Regions from separate parts of the Homo sapiens genome. Here region 2 is linked to region 1. Evidence: fine-mapped expression QTL. Tissue or cell type: whole blood. Region 1 holds a variant in brackets; the other region holds the start of a gene. All regions are shown on one strand. Distances are between the middles of the regions.

What was found. PIP is the estimated chance that this variant, and not a neighbour inherited with it, causes the effect.
Region 2: PCDH9 starts here. The variant in region 1 is fine-mapped to the expression of PCDH9 in whole blood (TOPMed, PIP above 0.99).

The regions. Positions count from the first base shown.
Region 1 is chr13:66,994,214-66,996,977 of GRCh38, reverse strand. All of the region lies in intron 2 of PCDH9 (protocadherin 9), which reads left to right. It overlaps PCDH9-AS4 (PCDH9 antisense RNA 4), which reads right to left. Exons shown (of 3, transcript NR_046637.1): 2 at 697-756. Among named protein-coding and RNA genes, the nearest start is that of PCDH9-AS4, 4.7 kb to the right of the region's middle. The variant G/A (reference allele first, on the strand shown) is at 1,460.
Region 2 is chr13:67,228,780-67,231,543 of GRCh38, reverse strand. PCDH9 (protocadherin 9) reads left to right here and starts at 1,208. Exons shown (of 5, transcript NM_203487.3): 1 at 1,208-1,764. RefSeq lists a silencer at 798-937.

The DNA of each region.
Region 1 (2,764 bases):
ATCTAATCAAACTTAACCACCACTTCAAAGCACAATGCTATTCCTGTCAACAACTCTTTTTCTCTGTTCTTTTCTTCCTTGATGCTAAAAACTTAGTTTTCAATTCTATACTGAATTTTCTATAAAAATCCTTTAATTTTGCATTTGGAGTAAGGTCTCCACCTAACTTGTTAGCTTTTTCTTTTACGATTCTGCAAGAAACCAGACACTTACTAGCCAAACAGTACTATTCACATTTAGACACATTCATTCAGGGATTTCATAATACTATCAGTTTACTTGTACATTTATTCAGTAAACATTTTTGTGTGCTTACTGTATGTCAGTTTGGTACTAGGCACTGAGCATACACATAAACTTAATTTATAATGTTGATGCTATTTCCTTTCTTGAAACACTCTCACACTAGCAATGCTTATTAAAATTCTTCACATATCAAATTACTTATTCTTTAACAATTAAATTTATTTAGTTTAAAAGTTGAAAGAATGTAGTAGAATCTTTTTTCAAATATCTCTTTCTCTGTGAGGCCTACCTCACCCACCCTAATTAAAACTATAATCACTCATTCCCAGCATGAAGAACTCAGAATCCCAACTATCCTGTGCTTTTTCTTTTTTTTTTAAACACTAATGTTCTAACATGTCATATAACATATTTATTACTGTGTATTGAATATTACTTGTCTGTACTCACTAGAATACAAGCTTCACAAGGGCAGAGAGTGGTGACTATTCACCAATGTACTCCAACTACCTGGAAAAATAGTAACATTCAATAAAATGTCCCGCTGGTAAGATATTCTCTTAATGAAACCTCTTCTGAGAACCCAAGCTTCAGTTTACATAGCACTTTCCTTGTGCCTCTCAGATAAGACAGAACATTTTCCTTTACTGTATCTTCCCATTAAATACAAAGCTCTGCAAGACTAGACAGTGTTGTTCACATATTTGTATCTTCTGGAGAGTTTAGCCCATCAGCCGAATTAATTGCAAATAATTATTGAAAAAAAATAAATGAAGTTAATACAATAATTCATAGTATACAGAGAAAATAATCTGTATCATTTTTCAAATATTGTGACCCAGTTGGGTCTAAGTAAATTATTGTTTTCTTCATTTAGGTTCTTTTAGTTTGAATTCAGTATATCAGAGGATTTTTAGACAGCAGTAATGCAGATGATATGTTCTCTCTGAACTGCTCGAGTATATTTGATATACATAATTTTTCAATCTTTTTATAGAATGAGATTGAGGTTTGCCTGAAAGAAGAAAAGCTCAAGAAGCAGTAGTCTTTGCTACAGGAAGACACACTATAACAGATGTTCTTTTCTTTTTTTATAGTCACAGAAAACCATCTTAACTTTGTGAAATTAAAGGGTAGAACTGACACAAACATGGAACAATTCTAACTTCCTAACCCAACCTCAAAACTTAGGGTTTGAAAATTGGTTACAGCT[G/A]TTCCTTTCTGTTTCTTAGGGTTTTGTTGTTGTTACTGTTGTTTTTTTCCCTTAGTGGTGGACACTTTTATGCACCAGCACTCAAGCAGAGTCTCTCACTGCAGGTGCATTTACCATTTGGGGACCGTGCTGCCCTTGTTTTGTTAGCCTCAGCATTTTTAAAAACCTCACTTCGCCCGTGGTGCTTGTGAATATATCACTGTCCACCTCTTTTGCCTTTTGTATTTACCGTGTCTTATGCTTCAGCCTTTCCGATGCCCTTGAGAAGCCATAACCATGCTTTACATTTGAAAGAGTGCCAGCTCATTTAATCAGGCTGAGTTTGAGAGGCATGGATGAATTTATTCTATCTAACATTTAATAAAAAATAATTTAAAAATGTGACTTATGCCATGACATGCTTAGCATTACCCTTCCGGGTTTAAATTTGAGAGCTGTCAGCACCCTCCGTGGTCTGGAAACTGACATGTTATCAATCAAGTGCGTGGGTGACAAGGCCGCTGATGTCCTCCCAAGGCTCTTGTTTAATAATTAATTTTTCATTGCAGGCATGTTCCGTAAATGGATTACAAAACTTAAGCCCGTTTAAAAGGTTTTAGAAATTCATTATTAGTTTTAAAAGATGAATGCACAAATTAACTATCCATGATAGATGAGGCATACCAAATATAGCCAGGTCCTATGTGGTTTTGGCTTATATTTATATATAGCGTAGAGTAGGGTAAAAAGTCAGTACAGTTTTATAGAGAATGTCACTGAAGCACCGAGGAAGTGATTCTTTCAAAGGAGACTCAAAAAAGGAGATCAGATGACAAAATTGTGCTTTGAACATTTTCATCTTTTCTGTTGCTCTCAGAAGTCCCCAGCCATCTAGCCTCTGGACAGGCTCAGCTCTATTTCTGGAGTCAGTACCTCAGCTTGTTTTTACCACAGAATAATATTATGATTTAGAATGAAAGAATTCTTATCAGTTATCACATCTTAATTTCCTTAATTCAACGTCAGTGCCAGTTTTTAAGCTGTTATCTTTCAGCTCCAAACCCACCAGCTTTGTGATTCCCCGGGCTAGTCTCAGCGCTCTGCATATCCGCTTTGCCATCTGGCTTCTTAATAAGTTTGGCCAGTAGGGCACGCTAGAGGGAGACCGAATGGCGGGGTGAGGGGAGCTACTGCGTCCGGCTTTGCAGGCCGTTCCTTTCAGGGTTGCCGCAGCAATGGCACTTCATCCTGGCAGCAGCCATTTGCTGGTTGCAGTGCCAGTTTCTTGGTTTCTTTTTTGCATTCCTGGAATCAGTTTCATCACTC
Region 2 (2,764 bases), 230 kb before region 1:
ATAAAGCTGTATTTTTTGGGGAGTCATTCCATCCAGTTCCCGTATGAAAACGAGAAACTTGTGAGGATTTAGTACAGAGCTGGAGTCGGAGAAATGAAATGCACGGGAAAAGACGAAAATCACAGGAAAGAAAGTTGGAATCAGCAGAAAGTGCCTAGGGGAAAGGAAGTGTTCCACAGCTTGGGAAACAGCTGCCTGGGACTCCTTCCAGCCCCTCGGAAGCAAAGTTCGCAGTGAGGTGGGCTGGAAGCGGGTTTTGCAGCAGCCGCGAGTCCGGGCTCAGGTTTCCAGGCGCGGCTGGAGCAGAAGTGCAGGGACCGCCACGATCCACCGCCGCGGCCGGTCCCGCTCCGCTAGAGGAGACTTCGCACGCGCAGCCGACTGGCCCGGGCTGACCGAGGGGACCCAGACGCTGCCACTTTCTCTTTCCAAGGCAGTTTCCGTGGCTCTGCATGTAGGAAGTGCTCCGATTAATTTTCTTTCCGGTCTCCGCAGAGATTCCAAATTCTGCGGTCCCCACCTTTCGCTGTACTCCCTCTCCGCCCTTCTTTCCAATGTCCCTGCCAGCAAAAGCCTCTATTTGCAGCACCGGGCATGTTGTCCGTTTAACGCGCTCCGGGGATCTGCTGGCTCGTGCTCCCAACCCAGGGGTGGCTATACGTCTCGCGCCTCTGTTCCTGGGTAGACTCCCCCATCTGTGCATTTTGGCCCCTTCACTTAGCAAAGAGATGTGCGAAGTGTGCGCCTGGAGACGAGCCGCCTCGGTGACCCCCATCCGCCCGCAGCGGTGGCCCTGGTTCCCCGGATCCGCGCCCGCGCCCTGCGGGTCTCCCGCGCCGCCCTTGCCCGCCGGACCACCCGGGCTCAGAGGGTCGCTCGCTTTCAGCGCCTGCGAGCGCCGCTTCCGCCCGGGCCTGGGGAGCGCCAGCGCGTCCCTCCCACGCCGGACCCTGCAGAGCATGCTCAGTGCACCTCATGGAACCCGGCTCTCCTGGGGCCAGGATCAGATTTCCGGGTTTTCGCTGCTGCCGAGGGGGCGCGGAGGAGGGGAGGCTGGGAGACAGTCAGCGCCTTGTTCCGCGCTCCCTCCCTCGCGCCGGGCTGCGGCCGCCCGCGCCGCAAGATGCAGGCCAATCAGAGCCCGGGGGCGGGGCCTGGGCAGTCACGCCCTCCCTCTGGGCTTATTGAGAGTTATATCAAGAAATTCAGTTCAGAGAGAGGAGAGGGAGAAGGAGAGAGGGGCAGAGGGGAAGGGAGAGAGGGAGAGCACGCGAGACGGAAAGGAGCGCCTCAGAGTCTCTGAAGCACGCAAGAGATAACCGATTAGGAATTTTTCGGGCAACTGTCACCCGGATAGCTGTCAGAGAATCATCATCACCGCAACTCTGACGTTTCCTACAAGAAGTTAGAGACTTAAGCAGTATTGGCATCGGATGGAAATGGTATGCATGCTGCTGTGGAAAATATCCCTGAGCTGAAGAAGTGCAACTATGTGTTGTGTGTGCTAAATGCCCAGAAGAACCCAGACCCAGTGGGTAAGAGAGACGAAATGTGGAGAGAATGACTAACGACAAATCCGTGAATTTGTTCTCTGGAGTTGCTAATTTGCCAGCCCGAAGCAACACATTTTACAAGGAGGAAACATTTTGCTGCTTCTGATTTCTCCCCAAACTGGTGCTACCAGATGCATGGCTTTCTATGTGTTGGAACAAATCATTCCTAACTGCAGCATACTGGGAAAGGGGAAAGGTTGAGGCAACTAACGTAAGTGTAAAGTTTCGCATGCACAATTGTAAATTCTGTGTTTAGATGTGTCCTCAGTGTAGGCGAAAGATGCTTGTAATTGGGTAGACGGTTGGGGCAGAGCTCACCTACTCGGCTGTATCTGCATCCCTACCTGCATCACTCTGCCGGAACTAATCGCGGGCATCAGCTACTGTGCAGCCTAATGCAGATAAGATTAGAGCCTGAGAACTGACCAGTCCTACTCAAGTAGGTAGCTGCCTGGAGCCTTGCACCCATTTAAACTGCAGTTATCTAAGCAGAAGCCTTTTTACCTGCATGATTGGGTTGCAGTATTTATGTGTGGCAAATGTTACTAATATTCTAACCAGAGATCAGGATTAAGAAATTGCATTTTTTTTCTCTTTTATGTTCAGTAGAAAATATTGTGATGTTACATGGGAATGTTAGCTGCGTTTCACTTATATCTCGGCACTCTCTTCCACCTCTAGGAAAATGAATCCTATATTATTATACATTTTTAAAAGTTTTAATGTGTTTATGAATCCTAATGAGGATAATTTGTCAATATGGAGAAAGGAGAGCAAGCTGTGGGCAAGAAATCTGAAGTCTTGTTGTTGTGCTTTTAGGCAATGAGGATGTGTAGAGGCCGGTGACTATTGCTTCTGATGCCGCTGCAGCGGCATGTCCGGATGCTCGTTTCCCAGTAAGATTGTATTAGAAGGCAGTTGAAGAACTGGGAGGAAAGAAAAAGATAGCCTTTTTAGAAAAGATAGGTGACTCAGTGGGGCAGAGAAGAAAACACATTTGACATGTGACAAAGCAATTAGCAGGAACCGTAGCTAAATACTTAGTGTTTTTCACTTGCACCTGAAAAGACTGAGGGAGGTAGGTTAGAGGCTAGGAGGAGGGTGAGACAGGGGGAGGGGAAGAGGAGAACAAGAATGCATGTTTTGAATTAAACAGTATTCTGAAAAACAACGTGCGTGAATATAGGTAAAAATAGCAGCTGTCCTTAATT